Regions from separate parts of the Homo sapiens genome. Here region 1 is linked to region 2. Evidence: fine-mapped expression QTL. Tissue or cell type: thyroid. Region 2 holds a variant in brackets; the other region holds the start of a gene. All regions are shown on one strand. Distances are from middle to middle. Region 1 holds the start of SORCS1 (sortilin related VPS10 domain containing receptor 1). Region 2 overlaps SORCS1 (sortilin related VPS10 domain containing receptor 1).

What was found. PIP is the estimated chance that this variant, and not a neighbour inherited with it, causes the effect.
Region 1: SORCS1 starts here. The variant in region 2 is fine-mapped to the expression of SORCS1 in thyroid (GTEx, PIP above 0.99).

Annotation. Positions count from the first base shown.
Region 1 is chr10:107,159,465-107,172,263 of GRCh38, forward strand. It overlaps SORCS1 (sortilin related VPS10 domain containing receptor 1), which reads right to left and starts at 5,242. Exons shown (of 26, transcript NM_052918.5): 1 at 4,505-5,242. The coding sequence starts at 5,062. RefSeq lists a silencer at 4,958-5,151.
Region 2 is chr10:107,003,060-107,015,858 of GRCh38, forward strand. All of the region lies in intron 1 of SORCS1 (sortilin related VPS10 domain containing receptor 1), which reads right to left. Among named protein-coding and RNA genes, the nearest start is that of SORCS1, 160 kb to the right of the region's middle. The variant T/TTTTG (reference allele first, on the strand shown) is at 7,377.

The sequences.
Region 1 (12,799 bases), 160 kb after region 2:
TCTTAATTCCCAGTAGAGAAATCTTTCTTCCCATGAGTAAGTAGCATTTATTGAGCATTTACTAGGAATAAAGCACTTTGTATCCACGATGTCGCCTCCTGAGGAAAAAACCTCCGAAAGATATACTATCCCCATATTTTAGATGGGGAGACTCAGGCTCAAAGAATTTAAGTGACTTACTCAAGGCAACGTGCTGATTTAGCAGGACAACTAAGATTCAAACTCAAATCTGTTTGATTTCAAACCCATTGCCTTCCAAATCACACCACATTAGCATTCATATAGCATTAAGTACTGAGAGAAGGAATTACGTGGACTTGCTAGAGAAAGCTAAAATCTTTCATCATTTTACTTTTTAAAAGGTCAGCTCCTCCCCACCGAAAAAAAAAAACTGTATCAAAATGTATAGCCAAGTCAAGCATTCACAGCCAGTGTGTCTATAATATCAGATTTGCCATTAAATTAGAAAAGGAATCTATTCCTGAGGAACAACTGAGCTGAAAGCTGAATGATCGCAGGTTACCTCTTGCTCACTGAATCACCAGGTGCAGATTCCATGTCTCACTGAAGATGAAGAGGTGGGTGGATGAGAGAACAACCAAAGCACTACTTAAGGTAAAGGGTGCAATGTGACAGGCACATGTTAATGTCCTCGCTTTTCTACAAGGAGATGGAGCTTCCAGCTAAGAGTACGTCCTCCTCCACCATCATCAGAAATCAACTCAAGATAGGATTATCTAAAATATAAACTCCAAAAGGTCTGAGTTTTTCCGTCCTACTTTAAAGTCCATTGAACAAGCCCTTCTGTGCAGTCTGGGAATAGGATCACTTTGGGTGACAGTCTCTGTTCTGCCACTGACCTCCTGTGTCTATTTGGCAATTCATTTAGCCTCTTGGAACCTCAGTTTCCTCCTGTATGTAATGACAATAATAACACCTACACATGACATTTCTGTGAAAAATTAAGTGAGATGATGAATGTAAAGCATCTACCCCAAAAGTTGGCCCAGATTGGGACTCAATTTATTCACTAATGTTGGATGGTAAATGTCAAATCCCAGAACAACTAGAAGCAAAGAGGTACACAGAAATCAAGCAGTCCATCATGTGCTATGAGAAATGTAACATTAAAGATGTCATCATGGAAAAATAGAAGTCAAGTAAAACCCTCTGTTAACAAATCTTGTAATACAATTGCCAGTGAGAAAGGGGCAGAGTGGTGAATTGAAATACTAAACTTAACTCCGGCATAAAAATATGAAAAAGAGATATTAACACCCGTCACCTACTTACTACCTACAAAGGATTTTATAAAGATTAATGCTACAGCACTTTAAAATCCCTTGGAAATAAGGAATAAACACATACACCATTATGCATACATATAAAGGCAAATATATATTTTAACACTCTAAGGATTACTATATAAATTTAGATCAGGGCACAGCATGCCTGGGATGAGTAGGGTGGGAACAATATGTTCTTGCTTACGACACCAAGCTCATGACAAATGATTCATACCCAGCACCTTTCATGCCAGAAGATCCCCCCAGGTGTTCCACCAACTCTAGCAACAGTTTCCATCAATCGAGACTGCAGTACAGAGGAATCACATCACACCCACAGACGAGGCAAAACAGACATGTCTTTATACAACTGCTCAAGTCCAACAGCTGAGGGGGCAGGAAAGTGAAGGGAAGGAGGTGAGTGAACCATCCAGAATTCCTCACCAGATTGACAAGCAGCCTATAATTACCATGCATTTGCACCTTGAATGCAGGTGTTGTCATAATCAGAGACTCTTCATAGCAAAGGCTTTTTGCTAAAGGTGAGAAGGGTTCACAGGATGTGCACTGCCTGTGGTCCTGAATGGGTCTGGGGGCAGATTTATAGGGGAGGACATCTAAATGTGAAAAGATAAGAGTCCCCCATGCCCCTCCACCACTCCAATCTGGCCCTCGGGTTTAAATTAGTGGATTTCCCACCCTGGGGTAAAGTGAAGTGCTGTTGAGAGTTCCAAACAAGTGTATGAGGCTGTAAAGTCACACTGCCCTCTTATGTATAGCCTGGCTCCTAATTCTCTGTAGTTAATCTGACCGGCATAGCCCCCACTTTAGAGATGAAAAAATCCACATTCAGCGGACACTCAACTTGCCTCGGTCAAACCACAAATAAGCAGAACTAGAATTCAGGTCTCCACTCTGCTTTGCATTCTACAAAACGGCCAAAAAAAAAAAGTTTATTTATGCTTTCTTTCCCTTTAAAAAATATTTTAAACTTTCTCTGAGTCTGGTCCAGATACGTAGGACTGGCTTTGTTTTGGAGGACATAGATAAAGACTATTTCTCTTTCTCCACTATCTGTATGTATATACTTAAAAAAGAAAAAGAAGAAACACCTTTGTGTGTGATGACCAGAGCAGAGACTGGGTCAGCAGAGGTCTTTATGGAATAAGAGACTTCAGGGGGCAGAAATCTCACCTCATTAGTTAACATGATTTGAGTGATCAAAACTTTAACACTCATCACCTCATTTCCTACGTTATCTCAGACCTGCCTGCATGTTCAATGCCCTGAACCTAATAAGCCCTACTAGAATTATAAGCACCATTTATTATTATTTTTTAATGCTGGCAGTGCTTGGCACCATTTCCTAAACGGAGGTTAAAAATTTGCCAAAGATGTATTCTACTTTTCTCTTTCTTTCCAAGATCTTTCAAGAGATGAGCTAAAAGAAGAGGTCTAATGGGTGAGTGATATTTTACAGCTTGAATTACATTAAAAGCCAGAAACATTCTGAGTCCAAAGTCTTTTACTTCTTAATACAACAAGAGCTAACATGTTTGATGTGTTTCAAATCTCCCCTTAAAGCCAGAAGCTTTGAGTTAATCACTTAAAGCAGTGTGAAAGTTATTCAATCAGTTTAAGAAGATTCGAGTTCAAATTAGAGGATTAATTTTAGTGGCTATGATATGAAAGATATAATGGTTAAGGTAAGGAATGAGGGCAAGGGTCTCCAGAACTTGAATGGAAAGAATTTCAGCTTCATTTATTTGATCAAACCACTCCTGAGAACCATATAAAATCACAGACTCTGTCATGAAGGAGGAATTGTAGGGAAAACCCTGCTACTACTCTCAGGACAGATACATCAATGCTAAATATTATCTATCATGATGTGCCTTAATACAATTTATATCTGTGTACCCAAGGAATTCATGATGACAGATTAGTATTTTAAAATGTTCACAACTCTCATTAAAAAGCTGACAATGAGCACAACTCACTAAAGTGGCACTTCTCTGGGAAGGTTTCTGGGAATTACATCACAACAGAAAACGTTTTGAAAGGTTCCAGACTGCGTAAATTGTGCATATTACAAACACTACAATCTCAATTACCTGGTTGAAGCTGTAAAACTTGAAATTTTTTTCCCCCATTTTACCCATCCTTGGTTGTTATGTTCTTGTCTATGTCTGGAGAAGTTTCCACACTTTAAAATCACTTTTAGTTATTACAATCAAAGCTGGTTCTCTACTATTTCAACTCACTGAAGTTTCTAGGTTCAATTTAAACAGGAATAGCTCCCTCAGATTGCAGACATGCAAGCTTTTCTGAAAATCTAAAACCTTTCCTGATAGGACCAAAGCTCATGGACTTGCATCCTAAGTCCCCTGGAATCCAGCCTCCTGGAATTGAGCAATCCCTTTCCTGCCTTCATAAAGGGAATGTTAAGTCTTTATTTGTGCTCTTCATTAGAGGAGGTCAGGCAATGGGGGAGAACAGGGAGTTGTTGTCACTGGGATATATCTGATCTTCCTGGGACTGACCATGCCAGAGAACAACCGCTCATTCACGGGCTGGAAAGCCCCAGTTCTCAAAACACCCTCGCTTAGCGCTGTTAGAAGATGCTGGAGAGTTCCTGCCCTGAAACTTGCATCCACTTGGTCCCTAAAGCAGAGGATACACTAAAGAACACCTTATATACTCTCCACTGCAGTTCTCCCTTGTGGAGAAGAAGGGGTTAGGAGCTCCGCATGAAATTAAAATAAAATAAAATAAAACGCCTACATATATGGGTCTTCTTAATCTTCTTTGAGCCAGTACATAGGTCTGGCAAGTAAAGGGAAAGTCACTTGAGGGGATGTCAGCTTGCCTGGAAATTTAACCCTTTCATCTCTGTATTAGGAGAACTTTAACCCCTCTGTTTACCTGGTCTTCAGTTCCACACACCAATGCGACCAAGGCAACAGGAAATAGGGATTTGACTCCTCAGTTTGAAGCTGTGGCATTTGGAGAGGACTCTGATGGTGTTGGTGGGAGAGATGGGGAGGTTGGTCTCCTAGTAGGTGATGTTAACTCTTGGGGGAAGTGGGCAGAGACCAGTTTGCAGCATCTCCCATGTCCAGAAACCCTATTTCCCCCCAATTCTCCATCAGATCACACAGCCGACTTTAACCCTTTCCATCTTTCCACCCCTTTACCCTCAGTCCCATTCTACTCACGCTGCTGTTGTGGCCAGACCAGTGGACCATGGCTTGGTTGTGTGCTGAGTCTCCCGTCAGCGCAAACGTGGTGCTGGTCAGTCTCAGCTCCTCCATCCGGAAGCGGGTGGCTTTGTCCGGGTCCCGCTCCCGAGTCCCAGGCTCCTGCTGCCCTCCATCTCTTAGCACTCCCCGGGGGCTCCGACTCGCGCCCTCTCCCCGTTCTGCCTTCTCCTGATCCGCTCCGCTCCGTCTCCTCCGGCCGGAGCGTGCAGCAACCGCCATGGATGCCCCAGTGCCCCGAGCCCGCTCCAGGGATAGCGCTCGGTCCCCGGGGGCCACTGAGAACAGGGGACGCACTACGAGGGGCAGGGGCGTGGCAGGAGCCCTGCCTGGCCGCCCCTGGTGGGAAAAGCCCCTAGGGGTCGAGGCCGAGCGTGGAGCGGAGCTGGGGTGCGGCGAGGGGCAGCAGGAGCCGCCGCCGCAGACGCCCGGGGCGCAGAGGATCAAGAGCCCCGCGCCGGCGAGGAGCGCGCTCAGCCGGGCTTGGGAGCCGCCGCCGGCGCCAACTTTTCCCATCGCGGGAGCGAAGAGCAGCGGAGAGAGGGGTCCCAGAACGAAGGTGGCGGCACGAGCTCTGCGCTGGCGGCTGTGGGGGGCCGGCGCTCAGGACCCCAACTCCATCCAAGTTGCGCCGCGGTGGGGGCGGGCGGAGGCGGCGCCGGGCAGGTGGCGGCCGCTTGCCCGGGCTGGGCTTGTGCCGAGCGCGGGTCCGGACGGAGCGAGCCGCCGCCGCGCGGGGGTGGAGCTGAGCTGAAGTCACTGGCGGAGCGGGCGCGGGCGCTGGCGGGCGACGCGGGAGGGAGGGCAGGCGCTGCCGGGACTCCGGGCGCCGCGTCCCGCGGCCGAGCTGCGCTGCGCACCGGGTCTCCGGGCGCTGGAGGCGCCGCCGGCGACCTCCCCTCGGCCTCGCAGGCGCTGCCGCCGCCTCTCCCCGCCGCCCACTCTGCGCCCCCGCGGCCGCGGGTCCCGGCGCTGAGTCCGCGCACCCTGCCCGCGGGGGCGGTCGACCCCGGGCTCCCGGAGCAGTCGATGTGTCGGGAGCTTCCTATTCCTGCTTTATTGTTTCTATGAGTCTATGTTGCTGTTTCCTTTTTTCTCCGTCTTTCTGGTCTTTTCTAGTTGAGGAGATAGGGATGGGTGGGCTTCTGCTCCTTCCCTCTCTTATGCTTCCTGAGTTGGCATCTTGACCTTACCCGCAGCAGAGCCTGTGTGTCCCAGCCTGGGGGGAGATCCCGGAAAGGCAGCAGCAGAGAGTGATGTAATTAAATGATCTCGTGTGTGAGTGTGTGTGTGTGTGTGTGTGTGTGTGTGTTAGTTTGGGGGATTTTTTTTCCCATCAATTTTAACGCTTAGATTTCTCTCCTAACCTCCTAAAGCATTCACTGAATTTGAACCCAATCTTCCTGCATGCAATCATATTTAAGAAAACGCTTTCCACTACGCGTTTTTTAAGCGTATATATCTTGGTTTCCCTAAGAGACTGCAAACTCATTGAGGACAGGAAGATCAAATTTCGAGCAACTTGGAGGAAGTGACCTGTTTTTTGTTTACCATTTTCCTCAGTACGTGGCACAGTACCCTACATGGGAGGAAATCTGCCAGTCATTAGTTCAATAAATATTTATTGTGAGTCTAATGCATATCTGCATAACAAATAAATACAGGAAAGGAGGCACAGTACTTATAGTTATTCTGTGTCACTTGGTGCCTGGCCCAGTGCTACTGCCACATGCTTTGAGATCCCTAATAGCAAGTCTGTGATGGTGCTCTGCCACTGGTTTGCTTTGGGACCTCAGACAAATCACAATCTGTCAGCTTCCTAAGCTTTAAAATTAAATGGTCACATTAGATGACCTTTAAAATCCCTTCCGCTCCTAAAATTCTATAATTGTATGATTATAGTATCTGCCCAGCCTAGCACCCTGCTACTATTCGTAAGTTCAGATGAAGATTTATAGCAGGTGAATGGGCTTTGAAAACGGCAAAGGATTTCTCAAAATCCAATCCTTTTTAAAGTAGACAGTTTGCTTCTAAGGGTTGAAATGGTTTCAGATTTCTTTGCAGTCTTCATATACGTAATATTCTCTTAGGTACATGTTATTACATTATTTAATGAATATTTACTGATTGAATAAATGAATGACACAACAAAATAGTACCGATTCCAGTTTCTAGTTACATTTTTGTTCATTTTCATACTAGAATAATAACCTCACTGAAAAATCTGTATACCGTGTTTGCGATGAGGCCAAGTTCAAAGTAATACAGAGTGATAATTACTCTTCAATTAATGAAATTCTTTCTAATGTCCAAGAAAACGTCTGTTATATCAATCCAATCCAGAGAGGTGTTGTAAAATATCGGCCTAAGTTCTTGTTCTTACGACCAGCGCAGAAAAAGTGCAAATGCAAGGAGGGCAGGCTTCTCAGCCATTAAACTTGAGTACCTAAAAGGACCTAAAAGAGTGTCCTGTTTGTCGTTAAAGAAGAAATACAAGCAAAAGCTCCTTTATGCCTGAATCCTCCAAAACAGAAAGGCTGTCTGGCAGGCTATGGCCTCTAGATGGAGGAGAGGAGAGCCAGAGGTCCTCTCTCCTCCTCAAATTGCAAATGTTCTTTGTCAAAACCCAGAGCGGTAGTTTTTTCTTTCCTCAGAAAGGTTTTTAGAGCTTTGCAGGATCATTTACTTAATGACTTCTTTCTATGCCCTGCTAACCTCCTTTCCAGTCTGGATAAGTACATGGGAATTCCTCCAAGAAAGGAAAAGCAGATTAAAGAATCAGAACCCAAATAAATTATCATCCAAATATAGGCTGGAAGAAGCAAAATGGAAAAGAAGACATTAGTGGATTCAGATTTCCTGGCTTTAGTCTATCATTGCCCTACCACCATTTATGTTATTTTGGTTTCAAAATGGAAGCGCTTCCTGAAGAATGCTCGTACAAGTAGAGTAGATTTTTCCTTCCCAGAATTTACAACCTCTTTTCAAACACACCTGTCAGAATGATCCCTTTAAAATGAAAGCATTTGCAGTCCATTTGCTGGGAGTTCATAGAGAGCAGGCAAGTTTTTAATGCCTGATTTTAATTATTCATTTGAGACAGAAGTTACACAAGTGTGGATGACATTGGCTGCAAGCCGTATTGTTCATATGTAGATAGATGGATTCATTTTATTTCTTATGGCTCTGCTCCCCGTTTACTTTTGCCAACAAACAGAAGCGGAAAGTACCAGTAATTTCCTAAATTATTCCCCTTATCTAGAAGACTCCAATAAATAGGCTAATCATGGAGGGGAGTCTATTTCAAGATGTTTTCAATCCAACAACCCACTAAGCAATCCAATAGATTTTTATTAATATAATATAATAAGAATGAGTCATTTGTTAGGAAAGTAATTGATATCAAAGGCTAGTAGAGAACATAAATCTGTAATTCCAATAAGGAGTCTTTTCATTGTGCACGTGACAAATATGCCACGACTTCATCTAAGTTATCATCATTTCTCATCTGGACTACCACAACAGCCTCTTACTGCTCACTCTACTCCATAATTGCACTGTTCCGTTCCTTCTCTCCAATAGTCATCTCCAAAGATGACACAAGTACAAGGGCACAAGCACACTCAGGTGATCCATTTTTGTGCAAGATGAAAATAATAGAATTTGGTGATATATTTAGTTTTAATCAGAAAGATTAAAATTTAGCCTTGCTAAAATATTTAATTATTGATTAATATACCTATGTTATATACAGTTTTATATACAATATAAACATATGTATATATATTCATATATATGCATATATATGTATAAAGAGAGAGACAGAAGCAGATAGAGAAAGAAGCAGAGGCAGAAAGACAAAGAATATGAACATTTAGTCATTGTATACTGATTGGTGTGCACAATCAAAAAAGTGTGGACACTCTGCCCTACAAGGCAGCAAAAGTAGTCTTTCAAAAGGATAAAAAATATAATTTATTGTAACTGCTTAATACTTCCTGCCAGCTTACCATCACAAACAGAATAATATCCAAACTCCTTACCATGGCTGACCAAGTACTCACTTCTCCATCACATTTGGCAGGATTCTCTACCCTCATCCTAATACGCCAACCATTAGGGGCTATCCTTTTCGCTGATGTGCCCAGTTTTTTCCAATTCGTGACCTTTGCACATGCTGTTCCGCCTGCCTAGAACGTCCACCGTCCAACCCCACTTCATATGGCTGACTCCTCTTTTTTGAGACCTTCACTTTAAATATACAACCTTAGAGAGACTTTTCCTGAACCTCTGCCTACAGAAGAAATTTATTCCACATTTTCTGTATCAATCTCTTGCCAGATCTTTCTAAGCGTATATTACAGCATTTAATTATTTTACTTAAACCTGTTTTTTGTTAATAACTTCCAAAAAATCCACATGTGGATAAAGGCCCTGTGCTCCTTATTTCAACATTTATTTTCAACATTAACCTCATTTCAACATTTCTTTCAGTGCCTAGTTAATTAAGTGCTCAATAAATAATGGCTGGTTAGCTGGGTGGCACCAGTATAACAAGCCTAGGAGCACAACTCTTAGTAACTAGTACTTTGTAAATCAGATATATACTCTATGCCAGAAACTATGCTATGGAGTTTAAATGTACCAGCTCATGCCTTTTTTTTTTTTTTTTTTTTTTTACAAAGCTTATATCACATAAGTACTATCATTCTCCCCACTTCACAGATGATATTAAGTAACTAGGGTCACACAGCAATTAGTGCAAAGAGACAAGGTTTCTACGTAGGCATTCTTATTCCCAGTATGTTCTTGATTTTATGAAATACTGTTTTACTCCAAATCCAACTAATAACAGATAACACTTATTGATGATTTTCTATGTGTCAGGCACTCTAATTGGCTTGAAACATTTTTAGTAATGCTGAGCAAGCAATTTTGGGAACAAGTGTGCACTTTTTTTAGGCTGAGGGGAATATATATACTCCCCATTTCTATTTGCTTTTATTTTGTGTGTGGGAAGTAATGTTAAAGAGAATGTTATAACCACTCCCCACATAATCTTACAGCATAAGCTACAGGTTAACTGTCTCATTGGTTTTTTGTCTTCCCTTTTTCCTAAGTCTCTTGATTTTTGATGGCTACTTTGGCTTCAGTTTGCACTAAATCACATTTATATGCCTCATCGTTTGAACAATGTCTTTTAATAGTTCTCAAAATATTTGGCTCCCCTTGGATACCATTGAGACAAAGTGTCTTGTCTTGCATTTCAGATCAATTTCATGAAGAACCACAGAAAGAAAACTGGGGAGAATAATATGCAGGCTATTCTCATTGCCTGCCAACAGAATGATGGGATTTTTAAAATCTGTCCCTTAAAATACTTTCAGGTATCAACAAATACAGACCTAGCTCTGAATCCAGTAATTGTACCCGTTCTCATACACCCAATCTAAGTGGTGTTAGTAGGAGCACATAAGCCCTCTTATCTTTAAAAACAGGGCTAAGATTATCTACCTAACTCATAAGGATGTTATGAAAGTTAATTCTACCTTGGACACCCGTTGGAGATAACAAAACTATCTTGGATTTGTGTACCCTCTGTCTCATCACACCTCTAAACAGTTTTTGTTTTGCATTTTTCCCCCTAGTTTAATAAATCTTGCAGCAGCTCCAAAAGATAGGTAGGGGGCAGTTTTTGCCTGTATCTTACAGAATACAAATAAATTTATCTAAGGTCACAGACTCAAAGACAAGACTTAGAGCAGATTGTCTTTTTATCCTTTTCCCCCCTGTTTTGTCCAATTCTGTTCCCAATTTGTATATTCATGAATTAAAATTCCACATTATTTTTGTGTAGCTATTATGCAGTGCTTATACAATCATTTCAGGTTTCAAAGGATAGTTTGCATAATTAAGTAGGAAAAGAGAAGCATGAAATAATATCACTGTCATTATGTAAACTCACATATGCATATATATTTTTCCAATTTTAATATTCATACTTAAAGTGAAATAGATAAAAATATACTATGATTAAATAAGTTTATTTAAAGATTGTATTATTAGATTTTTGAAAATATACCTTTACCAAAAAGTCTGAGAATGCATTAACATAACTTTATTATAGTCTTAAAATGATCTGAAAACTGTAAAATGTAACTTCTGTGTTCTCTGTTTTCTGTCTTTCTCTAGCCTGTAAGTCTAATATAAAAAGGCTTTGATGTACTAAATCACGAAACCAACTTCATAACATGTTTTCTGGTCCAACTTCCCTAGAAATACAAATAGGAAAAATAAACTCAGTTTATTTTAAACTAAACTTGGAGCTACATTTCACTTTTGTTGCTTCAGGAATACTGACTAGAGGAGAGAAGACAAAAGAAACAAAATGCTACCTCAAAAAACTCTTTAAAGGCCAATGATTGCAAAACCAAAAGCTTCTATATGATAAGAAGTCTTTGGTTATATTTGTCCCCTGTAACAAGAACCTATCCAAAGATGAATGAGGTTAATATAAAGCCCAATTCAGTAGACTCCTGTGGCATAATATTCCAGCAGAATACAACTCTATAAAATGTACAGTAGCCACTGAAAAACAAGGTCTTTGGGACCTCTCACTCAGAGCAAAGAGTATCTTACAGAAGAAGGAGGAAACAAATCAAAGAATCAGTAGCACAGTTGGACAGACATTAACTATTTTATGCTGCTTCCCATTTCTCTGTTTGATCTGGACCAAGAGCAGGCCTCCAGTCCAGATATTCCCAACAGTATGCTAAGCTCTGGTAGTGGCACAGAGGGACACCAAAGAGGAAAAGAAGAGAGGCGGTCAAAGGCACAAAGTCTGTTGTGTCTGTCTGTCTTGTGCTGAGAGGCAGTACAGTGTGGGGCTTAAAATCCTAAACTTGAAAGTCAAAATCCTGCTTTTAAATCCCGTGCATGTCACTCACTAACTGTACATTATCATTTGACTTTTGGAATCCCTATTCCTTAATCTGCAAAATGTAGGTTATATCACCTTCCTCATGTGAGACTGATTTACCTGAGACAGAGTGAACACTCAATACATGTTAGCTGTTAAAGTTGCTTCATACTTCAAATACCAACTTCAGTTTGACACTGTTCTTCAACATGCTTCTCTAGATGGGAGACAAGGAGTTAAAATCCATGTATATTTTTTAAAAATCAACTTATTTCCAGCTAGGGTAAAAACACAATTTAAAGACCACCATACCCCAGCAGATATAAAAAGAAGAGTAGAGAACAGGTGTTGGAACGCAGAAGGTTCACTCTGGAAGCAAATTGAAAGGATGGGATAAACTACCACCTTCTTAGTTATTGCCAATCTGGTGTTCTGTGTAAAACACTGTACCATCAATCTGCATCTTTGCAAGCTTCTAGGACATCAACAGTAGATTGGGCAAGAGACTGAGCTTTTAGCTATGTACTTGAATTATTCTTTGCAGCTTGAGAAATTAACTTTAGAAAAGGTCCAAGGGAATCCCCCTTTTTTTTTTTTTTTTTTTTGGCACAGAGTCTAACTCTGTCTCCCAGGCTGGAGTGCATTGGTGCTATCTTGGCTCACTGCAACCTCTGCCTCCCAGGTTCAAGCAGTTCTCCTACCTCAGCCTCCCAGGTATCTGGGATTACAGGCTTTGCCACCATGCCTGGCTAATTTTTGTAGTTTTAGTAGAGACGGGGTTTCACCATGTTGTCCTGACCTCAAATGATCCACCTGCCTTGGCCTCCCAAAGTGCTGGAATTACAGGTGTAAGCCACCATGCCCAGCCAGGGAATCCCTTAATACATCCCTTATTCAACATATGCAATTTATCTTTTGGAGATACTATAGAGTGTGAAGATATGAATGAGCTTTAATAAGCTGCCTAGATGTAGATCCATGATTGTTGAAAAACTGTTATTAGGATCCACTCAACTACCTGCTCAGTTACTATCATCAGGTATATCTCTATGAGGTACATTATTAGCTGAGGCCTGTTCATTTTCTAAAAGGAGCTGTGGTTCTCCAGGGGTGGTTTAATGAGTTCCTATCTAAGAAGTCAATCAGTTCATTGTTAAACTGGTATTTTATGCCTGTTATCCAAAGGCCCAATTTCTGTAGAGGCCAGCAGCCAAAATCTTTTTCTCCATTTCTCCATCTCTCATCCAACTCACTGATACTTCTAGATTTTAGTAGCTTTATCTTCTTAGACTTCCATTAACTACTTTTGTTTCTTTGATATCTGCTACCATAGT
Region 2 (12,799 bases):
AGCCTGGCCAACATGGTGAAACCTGTCTCTACTAAAAGTACAAAAATTAGCCAGGCATGGTGGTGGGTGCCTGTAATCCCCGCTACTTGGGAGGCTGTGGCAGGAGAATCGCCTGAACCTGGGAGGTAGAGGTTACAGTGAGCTGAGATCACACCACTGCACTCCAGCCTGGGCCACAGAGTGAGACTCCATCTCAAAAAGGAAAAAAAAAAGTTGTTCTACAATAGGTACTTAGCAGCATAAGTAATATATTTGCAGCTCATATCAGCATCCTTCCAATGGGGTAGCAATATAAGAATATTTTGTATATTTATGTATAGCCAAAGTATGCATGTGTTGTGTGTATAGAGAGAATAATAAATTCCCATAAGTGTGTGTGTGTGTGTGTGTGTGTGTGTGTGTGTGTGTGTGTGTAGTAATCCACAGACTCACTTCCTCTTAGCTATCTCATACAACAAGAATATTAATCTTTTAAATAAGGGCCTAAGGCAGAATATTGGATCTAATGCATTCTTAGTGTCTATTTCAGATCTAAAAATCTAGCCATAAAAATGCACCATCATGTCATCATGTTGTACTGTAATCCTTAGGGTAATGACATTATCTGCAGTGTCGGTCTAATTCTGGATGGAGTCTCTGGCCTTGTGAAGGAGGCTGCCTGAGATGAAGGCATCTCACAGAGAAGATCCTACCTCTGGCTCAGGACTAGTGTGCCTCTTGTTACATAATTAACATGGCCCTGAATAGTTGGGAAGAAGGAAGGGGGCAGGGAATAACAGAAACTCATGATTCAAAAGCAATCCACAACAAATCCCTTTTTAAAGCAGAGAATACGGCTGGGTGCGGTGGCTCATGCCTGTAATCCCAGCACTTTGGGAGGCCGAGGAGGGTGGATCACAAGGTCAGGAGATCGAGATCATCCTGGCTAACACGGTGAAACCCCGTCTCTACTAAAAATACAAAAAATTAGCCAGGCGTGGTGGCTGGTGCCTGTAGTCCCAGCTAGTTTGGAAGGCTGAGGCAGGAGAATGGCGTGAACCCGGGAGGCGGAGCTGGCACTGAGCCGAGATTGCGCCACTGCACTCCAGCCTGGGCGACAGAGTGTGATCCCATCTCAAAAAAAAAAAAAAAAAAAAAAAAGCAGAGAATACTACTGGCATTGTATGTAATAACTCCTGATATCCAAGTTTGTATTCCTAAACAGGTCTCTACAATCATTTTTCAGTTCCCTTCTTTGGTAATTCCTGTATTAGTCTGTTATCACACTGCTAATGAAGACATACCCAAGACTGGGTAACTTATAAAGAAAAAGTGGTCAGTGGACTCACAGTTCCACATGGTGGAGGAGGCCTAGCAATCATGGTGGAGAGAAAAAGAAGAGCAAAAGGATGTCTTCCATGGGAGCAGGCAAGAGAGGTTGTGCAGGGGAACTCCCATTTATAAAACCACAAGATCTCGAGACTTATTCATACTGTTCTCATCAGAACAGTATGGAGGAAATGACCCCCATGAGTCAATCATCTCCACTTGACCCCACCTTTGACTTGTGGGGATTATTACAATTCAAGGTGAGATTTGGGTGGGGACACAGCCAAACCATATCATTTCCTGATTAAACCTCGTGATTTACCAGAAGTGGCTACTCTTCTGGGAAGCCCTCCTTACAATACTCTTCTATAGGTCCATACTTTGGGCTGCAGGCTGGCATCATTAAAAATATAAAACTTTTCATCTGCACTCTAGTCGAGGCATTTTTAAAGGACAAAATTATAAATTCCCATAAATATGCTGGTATGTGTGTGTGGGTGGGTGGGCCTGTGCGTGTATGTGACAGTGAATTTCTAAAGAAAGCCAAAGCAGTGACCCTACAAAACAAAAGCAGCAAGTCATCCAGCCCTGATTAAACTTTCTCCAGTTGCCTGCCAATATGGAAAGATATTTTAATGTAAACCACTGAAAAACAATATGCCTATATAGAGTAAGAGCCCCGGGGTGGTCACAGCTAAGAAAATTCCAGCTACAGCAATCAACTCTAAGGAAATAATTGAGATATGGTCAAAGATCTCCGCATAAGGGAATCCCATCACGGCATTATTTATAATAGAAAATGAAAAGCCAAGAGAGGCTTGGTTGCTCGCACCTATAATCCCAGCACTTTGGGAGGCTGGGGTGAGAGATCACTTGAGCCCAAGAGTTTGAAGCTGCAGTGAGCTATGATTGTGCCACTGTATTCCAGGCTGGGTGAGACAGAACGAGACTTTGTCTCTTTCGGGGGCGGGGGGTAGGGATGGGGGTGGAGAAAAAGCTGAACACTATGTAAACTTTAAAAACTAGAGATTGTTCTAAATACAGAAATTTTAAATGTGGAATCATATAGATATGAGAAATTATGGTTTTTTTTGAAAACTTTCACAAATAAAGGCTGAAGATAAAATTTTAACTGAAAGACAGGAATTTTTTAAAAACTGCACAAGCATTATGTTCTAAAAGTTGTATTCCCTTTTTTCCATATGAATACCTACATATTATGTACACTTTATAATAAATGTTAACATAATTATCTCTTGGTAAAATTCTGCACAATTTATTTTCCTTTTTTGTACTTTTCTGTACCCTATGTATTTTCCACAATAAGATTATTTTACTGTTGTAATCATGGGGAAATTTTATTTAATGAGGTGGGACCATACAATATTTTAAAATGACAAAAATAGGCATATGATTCTCACATATTTTGTGATATTAAAATTATATGAAGATTTCAGTCCCATTTTTATTCGTTTGTTGACACCTAACTATAACTATCCAAATGAGAACCTATAATTATTTGGAATCAATAAATATTTCAATTTCTATACCACCATGATAGAAAATTATATCAATTGCCCATTCTTGATTTTGTGGTAATTTGTTGAGGACTGAGGTGTGTCATCTTTAGGCTGTATTTTGACCCACCTCCCCTTCATATTTCCCTACATTGTCCAATTTAATACATATCACAGCACAGCAGCTTTATTTCTTTATGCCTCTCCTATTAGATTTTGAGTTATTTGAAGACTGAACTCTCATTTATGTACTCAATACATACTTATTGACACCTTAATATACCATAAACCCTATTCTAGGTCCTCCTGGTAGAACAATGCAGCAGGAGAGAGGGAGGCATGGATGACAAAAAGCTCTTAACCTATATCCTTGTGTCTGTATCCCAGCTAGCCCTGTGCTTAGCACCTGACAGGTACTAGAAAAGCAGCTGTTCAATGAAAGAAACAAGGAAGACAGGGAGGAAAAACAGGTGTATTAAATCAGAGCAACAAGAGAATAAATAGATGGCACAGGGAAACACTATTTAATATAAGTAATGAACAGGTGAAAGAACCCCAGAAGGGTAATAAGTAGTAAGTCAGAACTGTTTCTTTCTGGAAGGCAAAAGAAATTGGACTTTCAAAGAAGAGAACATGAAAATAGTAACTTTCCACCGGGCATGGTGGCTCACGCCTGTAATCCCAGCACTTTGGGAGGCCGAGGCGGGCAGATCACGAGGTCAGGAGATCGAGACCATCCTGGCTAACACGGTGAAACCCCATCTCTACTAAAAATACAAAAAATTAGCCGGATGTGGTGGCGGGCGCCTGTAGTCCCAGCTACTCAGGAGGCTGAGGCAGGAGAACGGCGTGAACCTGGGAGGCGGAGCTTGCAGTGAGCCGAGATTGTGCCACTGCATTCCAGCCTGGGTGACAGAGCGAGACTCCGTCTCAAAAAAAAGAAAATAGTTACTTTCATAGTACCTCCCACAGAACTGCAGATTCTTCTATTATTCTCATTCCTTTTAAATTTATATTTTCATTTTTCAATGATTATAAACAAATTTACATACTCAAATGCGCTTATAGCAAATCTTAACATTCCAGAGACGAAGTGTTAATTTTTTCTAGGTTAAGTCATTTCCCTTGTATCTCCATGTCCCGACTAGACCTACGCTTAGCATCTAGTTTGTTCTCAATTTTGTAGTAATTAGTTTTTGTGTTAACCTTGGTCTAAAACTTCCCCTGCAATCCCTGTGTAATCATTTGAAATGTCTTCAAAAGGTTCATTGACTATGAAAGTGGTAACTGTGTGTGGTGATTAAAGACAGTCACACATTCTTTGGCCTCCTCCCAAGGCAGAGAGGGGGTCTTTGTCTTGTCCCTTTTAACTGGTGCAGGATCTTGTTTTGACAATAGACCACAGTAGGAGTGACACTGTGCCATTTTCCAGATGAGGCATTAACAAACTGTTAGCTTCCACTTCTGTCTTTTGGAACACTCTGCCTTAAAACCGAGCTGCCATGCTGTGAGGAAGCCCAAGGAACCCTTTGGAGAGACCCTAATGGAGTGGAAAGATGTCCCCTGGCTGAGTTTCCAGGCAACAGCCAGTACCATCTTACCAGTCATGTGGGTAAGCCATCTTGAAAACAGATCCTCCAGCCCCCGCTGAGCCTCTCTAGTTCACGCCTCATACAACTGCCACTGGCAAGTCCTGCCCAAAGTGAAGATTCATGACCAAAATAAAGATATGTTGGAGTTTTAGCCATAAAGTTTTAGGGTAGTTGGTAACACAGAAATAGGTAAGTAGAACATTCTGGATGAATCTTTAGAAAACATTATAAAAACTCAGACCTGTGTTTGTCCTTCACACATGAGCCTTCTAGTAGAGAATACACTAACTACACTTCAGCACCTCTAGGCCACATCCCATTGAATACCATGCGAGGCTCAGGCCCAATTACGCTTACTTGATAGCTGTGCAATAACAAACGAACATACAACATATTCTTCACTTGTTCTTGGCCAAAAGGCCAGGAGGTGATGAATATACAACATACTCTTGTAGAATTTCAGTGCTGATCTAAATTTCAGCTCCTCCCATGATAATATTATAAAGTGCTTTGTATGTTGTCTAAAGATTTATTTATTTGTCTATTGTAGGTTAATTATTCACATTAGAAATGGAGTATTAGTTTAATAAATTCTTTTTTAAAAAAGACTGTGATAGCATCAATTAGATTCAAAATGAGAGGGCAGTTTTTTCTATACTAACATCATACGATTCTTCATCTAGTGCCAGTGACAACTTCAATAGTACATAAAATAGTAGAGTTGCCAGTATTTTTCATAAAGCCACTCAAAAAGACAGTACAATTTCATTGGTTTCCATTTTTAAGGTGATAGAAGTCCAAACCCTCAATGTAATTTATGCAGTACAATTATGCAAAGCAGTGTTCAAGCCAAGTCACAAGGTCATTTTTATATAAAACACAAATATACATTCTAAATTTTCTCTGGGACAACTAAACATGTAAATGTTATTTAAAAGAGCGTGCAAAGATAATTCAAATACCTTGATTAAAATGCAGTTGTAGCATTTAAGATAAATGGCTTCATCACATGAAAGATGTTCCCACAACAGACAAAAAGTTAATGCCTCTAATATTGTCATTGAAATAAGTAGATTGATGAATAGGTTGTGTTAAACGGTACAATTAGAAACAATATTTGATAATGTATTTCAGAGATGGAGCTAAGAAAGTACATTCTGCATACTGGATAAATTTGCTTAAGTCTGGGTTATATGAGACCATCAGAATTCAACAGCACTCAAAAATGGTTATTATATGGGCCGGGTGCGGTGGCTCATGCCTGTAATCCTAGCACTTTGGGAGGCCGAGGCGGGTGGATCACGAGGTCAAGAGATCGAGATCATCCTGGCCAACATGGTGAAACCCCGTCTCTACTAAAAATACAAAAAATTAGCTGGGCATGGTGGCGGGTGCCTGTCGTCCCAGTTGCTCGGGCTGCTCAGGCAGGGGAATCACTTGAATCCGAGAGGTGGAGGCTGCAGTGAGCCAAGATTGCGCCACTGCACTCCAGCCTGGTGACAGAGCGAGACTCCGTCTCAAAACAAAACTAAACAAAACAAATGGTTATTATAACTCTCTATTTTGTTTGCTTTGGTAAGTTCTGGTCATACAGAGATACCAGGAAGATTTGTTATTTGGTTAAATTATTCCACGTCGATGCAAAAAAAATTCTGAAGGGTCTGAATTAGTTTTTCAAATACATGATCAAGTATGGCAAAAATGCAGTGACATCTGCATATAGACGTTGAAAAAGCAACAACAGGAAAAACTGTAAAATGTTGTGACCCTTATAAAAGCTATTCCCCAGATATTATCAGGCTGTTTTTGTGTGTTGCATGGAGTAGCACCATTTTCAATTACAGTTGCTTAGACAATACAATATATACTGTTCACAAATCACAGACATTTTAGAATTATTTGGGCAGAGAGTTCCAGATTTTTATTTTTTAACTGAAGTGTTCAGCTCTTCTGATCAACACGAAGGGCAAGTATGAATGTTTAAATTGAGAAGAGAAATCACTACTTTTCTGTTTCTCCTTAAAATAGAATATAGTTTTTAGTAGCAAAATAAGCATAACACAGGACACAATGTTATTGAGTTTAGGACTATGGATAAAATATCTGGAATGACATTCAAAGTTAAGTTTGTACTCAACATATAAAGCAAATAAATTCTTCTGTTTCATGTAGTTGCTGGGACAGGCACCAAAATACGCAAGATTTAAAAACATATATATAATTGAAAATATCACAATCTCATAATATGCACAAAAGTATTTTCTGACGAAAATGTTAGACTTACTAAGAAACCTGTTTTTTGACTTCCTTTAAATTGCTCTTTCACCTATTGAGAGATGCAAATAATTATTATCAGAGCGACAAAGAATAGGTGCATAGGGAGACAATACGTAATATAAGTAATGAAGTAAAAGAAACCCAGGAGGGTCACAAGTCAGAACTCAGAAGTGTATCTGGTACCGATTCAGTATGGAAAGAAGACTAGTAGAAAAACTGAAGTATATCTTAAGATTGAAATTTGAACTGTTGAAAAACTTATGATGTGGAACTATGTATGGAAGCCAGTATAGTCTCAGTTCTGAAAAAAGAATCTAATCACTGCATCAAACGTATTTCTAAAATTAGTAACAGTCATCCACAACACCTGTTTTCAAATGTTTGTTCATCAATATAACTTCAATATTTGAAGCCATGGAGTTTGTAAGCACATGAACTTATACATTTGTTAAATGAAATGCTGTTTTAATACTTTCTAAAGGATGGAGTAGGGGAGATTTCACAAAAGATTTCATTTATAAAATTGGTTCCCTGCTAAATAAGTTTGAAAACCCACTGGGCCAGAAAATTTTTCAAACAGTCGCTCTGCAGGACAGAATATGAAAGAAAATCCCAGCCATGCTTAATCATGCTCCACTGAGTTGAGGCCTAGTTACTTGCTCACAAGGCATAACTTTATTTT[T/TTTTG]TTTGTTTCCGTAGTTTCTCTGAATGAGTTCTTCCATTTTATGGAAAAGAAAATGCCATTCAGTTAAACATCCTGCATCGGTGAACATCCATCACTCAGTTCATCTCCCCTGCAGATGTGTTTCTCCACCGCTTTGTGACGTCAAGCTGCATCAGGCGTTTGCCTTATCCACAAAGCACAAAACTTGGACCATCAGCCCAACTCAGGAAAGTTAATAGGAGCTGATTGAACAACTGAGCTAACCGTGGGGCCTGTGGGTCATTTTGAGAGGCCTCAGATCTCTGAATAAGTTGGCGGTCCCCTTCCTTTTGTAAGACCGAGTTCATAAGCAGCTTCCAATGGAGATAACAGGCAATCGCAGTGTCTATTGGCAGAGGTGTCCTGCATGGCTTCTTTTCCGCTATAGTGAATGTGTCTTGCAGATAATTTCAGTTTCTCTCACAGAGCTTTCAAACCAGATATCACCCCACTGAGACAGGAACACAGTGATTTTTTCACATGCTCCACCAGAAAATGCATAAGTCAACTGAACCACATGGAGCCAAGCCTTGTGATTCTTCAACATGCTGTAAGATCTGCCTAGACGGATGAAGGCAATTCCCACACACTGGGATGAGCAGGAGGACAGGAACCTCAGAAGGAAAGAAAATAATAATAATTCTGCCCTAATCACCAAGTAATGCTGACAGGTGACTGATAAATAGCAGCTTCCTTTATGGACCTCTTAACTTTTTGGCTGTGGACAAAATAAAGCCCTCTTTCTTGGGTCTGTTTTAGACCCACTCTCCCTTTCACAGAGCATTATCCACAGCATTGAAAACTTGTCAGTTCGTATTCCTTAAACCACTTTTCACTTCTTATGCCAATGCCGCCTCCTATGGGGGAATAATTGAAAGTCTGCAATGGAATGTAGTGATTAAACTCATCAAGAGCAGATGATAAGAAACACGACCTTCCACATAAAAGGGAGAAAAGCATGTTTGTCTCCAGACAAATTCATGCAAACCTCAAACAATTGCTCTCCTTCTCTTGTAAATGCTGTGTCTTTGCTTCTGCCCTGCAAGCTACCCAATGATCACTCCATTAGATGCTACATGGACTCTTGTTCAATCATTAACAGCCACAAGGTTTACTTCACAGCTATCCACAACTCCTTGCAGAATTCCAATGCTCCAAAGAACTGGACAAGTTACCTCTTGCAAAACTGGAGACCAATGAGATGCCTAGAGATTTGTCAGATAATACAAGAGAACAGACAGAATGTTTCACCTTCTCCTTACAATTCTCCTACTTATTTTTAACCTCCCCAAACACCAAAAGCCATTTGCTGTATATGGGGGTTCTCTATCCCCAGGCTGTTTTACTGTATGCCATGGAGATCCTAAGTAAAGAACCAGCTAATTTGCCATACCTGGAATATTCTGGGTTATAAAACACTAGATCACAAGGTTGTCTATTTAAATATTGATATATCACAATTTTATATTTGTAAGGACTGGTGAAATAAGGAGATCTTTATTTCTAAAAGAAAAGAAAAGCCCACAAGTATGTTTACTGTTTTATCATTTTTTTAGTAATTTTTAACATCAGAAGCAGTTCCTCGAAGATAACATGTTCAAATGTGCCCAGACAACAGGTAGAATCAACTGTTATTGCAGCAGATTTTTTTTCGTGAGTTCCTCCAAGACCTTGTCTAAGACTGAAACAGGGACATTTTTGCTTAGTTGCAATTTCACGCTTTCCTTCCATTTTCCAAGTTGTGGTTTAGCCTCAAGGAATAGCCTTGGGTATCAATCCAGTCTCATCCCTCACACCCTCTTCCCATCTTTATGGCTAGACATTTGAGATATGTCAGCAGAGGTTTGCAGAACTGCAGTGTAGTATAACAATTAAAAGCCAAAGTGCTGGAGTTGAACAGGCTTGAGGAAAAAAAATTCACACAGGGATGCTCACAGCTCATAGGATTTTTGGTGGGAATAATGGACATGATACATAAGTGTTTGATAATAAATAATAATAGCTAGTATTCATTTAGCTTTTATTATGCTAGCACTTTTTATATATTAACTTTTATTTTCACCATAGCTATGAGAAAGATATCATCATCCTCATTTTACAGGTGAAGATTGAGACATGAAGAGGTTAAGGAACCTGCACAGAGAGGTGAAGTTACTTGTCCAGTGTCATAGAACTAGCTCATGGAACAATCAGAATTGGAACTAAGGTAATCTGCCTCTAGTGTCCACATGTTCCACCACTACTTTGTAAACAGAACCTGGTACAGAAGGACTGTTAACTCACTGTGACCCTTTTCCTCCATCACTTTCTTAATCCTATAGTTCCCCACAGATACCATGGGATTTATCATCTTTATACTTTTATTTATAACATTGTGCATGTTTTGGCTAGCTCCTCTCTTTCCCCATTTCCTTAACTCTTACCAAATATGAAGGATGCATCCTAAGCTATGAACTCCACTAAGATGTCTGCACCTGTCTCTTCCAGGTTGAGTTGCTTGTTTCTCTTCTACACCTCCTTAATGCCACTTCATGTCTTGGCCTCCTATTATCTGTCAATGTGTCCAATTTTCTCCCTTGGTGGAGTTCCTTAAGGTCGAGGAAACAGCATTCAATTCCATATCCCTAGGGGCTTGTAGAGTACCTGGTACACAGTTGGTAGCTAATTAATGTTGAATAAATAAACAAATAGAAAGTCTGAACACTGCCCCTTGGCTTTTGGCAGGCTCCCTTCACAAAACTAAAATTCACCTGCCTTAAGTATGTTTGGAAGAGGTAGGGCAAGGGATCAAGCTACTAGGAAAAGTTGGGTAATGTGGGTCACATTTAACCGAGTCCAGGTTTCACTGAAATTCAGCAAGAAACCTTGCAGAAGTTAAAATAAATGGCGTGGAAAGGTTTCAGATCTAGCCAGGAACTCCACTGAGCACTGAGATGGAACCTGACACCAAGCAGAAGGTAATCAGATCTGGGTTAACCTGGAGTCACACACAGATAGCCAGCAGGAGACTCACTTTTTCTTTGAGTAGGCTAATAAGAGACCATTGTCCATTGTATTTTATTTCATTGCTGTTCTCTCCCTTCCTGCAGTATCAGTAGGATTAACATCAATAATGGGGCTGTCTTTGTATTTACACATTGTAATTAAGCCTAGATGAAACCTAAAGAGCTCTTTAGGGATATTTATTAGCATCCAGAACCACCTCAGCTTGTAGGCTACCTTTGGCCAGTGGTTGGAAGACAGAATTAAATAAAACATCCACTGTGCAATGACACCATAAATTCCCTCCAGGACTCCTCCTGCCAGCGTGTCTGACCTCCTCATGCTACAAGGATACAGAACCAGGTTGTTGAAGATTTTGTTTCTAACAAGCTTATCATGGTTTAAAAGGTCTGTAAAAATGAGTCACCCAAGTGACTCTTGACTCTAGTTCCTGCTAATTTAGAATCTCTAGATTGCCACAGAGAAGGCCCACCCAGTTATTTCTGGCTACCCTTGGAGGGGGCTTAAAAAGAGAGAAAAGGCCGGGCACAGTGGCTCATGCCTGTAATCCCAGGACTCGAGGCTGAGGCAGGCAGATCACAAGGACAAGAGATCGAGATCATCCTGGCCAACATGGTGAAACCCCGTCTCTACTAAAAATACAAAATTAGCTGGGTGTGGTGGCGCATGCCTGTAGTCCCAGCTACTTGGGTGGCTGAGGCAGGAGAATTGCTTGAACCTGGGAGGCAGAGGTTGCGGTGAGCCAAGATCATGCCACTGCATTCCAGCCTGGACCAGACAGAGGGAGACCCTGCGTCAAAAAAAAAAAAAAAAAAAGAAAAGAAAAAAAGAGAGAGAGAGAGAGAGAGAAAGAAACAAAATAGGGGAGAAGGAAGAAAACATCTTCCAGCTTTTTTTCTGGCCTTTGCTTAGTGTTGCAGGGCATCAGCCCTCTTGTGGGGGCCACTGTCCATTTTTGTGGATACTTTAGAGCTGTTAAAATGTTTCAAGGTGTCAAAAGTTTGCAAAGTTTTCTATGGCAAAATGAGAAACTAGGAATTGCCAAAATGCTTCTTTCCTCCTTTAGGTCACAGCCAAAATGGAACCGAATTCCCTTGCTTTCTGTTATGTTATAGCAGCAGTTCTCAAAGTGCGGCCCCTGGACCTACAGCATCTGCATAACCTGGGAATCTGTTAGAAATGCAAATTGTCTGGTCCAATACCAAAATTTAAAAATGCTGGAGGTGGAACCCAGCAGTCTGTGTTTTAAAAAGCCCTCCAAATAACTCTGATGGACATTCACGTTTGAAGATATTTTACAGAATTTCTAGAGAAAAAAAGTTTTACTTTTTTAAATTTACCTTTTCACCACATAAACTTATTGCATACAATTTGATGAGTTTGAATATGTACATATTCTTAAACCACATTCTTTTCTCCCTCTAAGGATGCTGATATGAATTCCTAAAGGAAGGAATAGCCAATTGTGGTTGGAATATGGTCAGGATCACCCTTCCCTTGCAACTACTAAGAGAATATATTACTGAATCAATATCCCATGCTTAGGGTCAGGATGAATTCTTTGCAAGGAGGCTCCTCAGACCCTTGTGAACACTGACTTCTCTAGGGCAGCTACAACCTTTCACCAGAGTATACCCTATATCTAAATCACCGGTAGAAACAGATTACGCTTAACCCTATGATTCCATGAAGGAAATCATTCATTCAACGCATTCTACAAATATGTGTTGAGCACCTACTGTATACATAGTACTGTTCTTCCCTTGGGATATGTTAGCCAACAAAGCCAAGACCTCTGCTGTTGTGGAGAGATAGAAAATAGATGGGCCTTACTCAGTAAGTACATTGTATGGTATGTCAGAAGGTGACTTGTGTTATTGCCATCACACACACACACAAATAGAGCAGGGCAAGGAGGTTTAAAGTGATGTTCTTAGGTTTCATTCAGAAGGTGGTATTTGAGCAAAGAGTTGACAGAGATGAGGGAGTTAGGCATGCCAGTAACTGAGGGAAAAGCATTTAAGGCAGCGGGACAGTGAGTACAAAGGCTCAAAAGCAGAAACATCCCTGTCTTGGAGAGTGACAGTTCTGGAATCAAAATACTGAGAATTGATGCTGTATATGAAAACAATATCCATAGTCACAAATAATTTCAAAATGGAAACTATAATAATACAATATCATGCAACACATGGCCTCCTGGCTCTCTCAATGATCTATAGTCTTCAACAATGAGGACAGATGTTTTGCAAGGACTCTTTCCCCATTATCTCCTTGAGAACATTTGATGAATTAGAAGAGTTCATTTGTATAATTTTGAATAAAGGTGACAGATTTGTAAAGATCTCAAAGAAGCAACTTTGGAATAGAAAATACCTAAGTCAAAATAGACTATTAATATA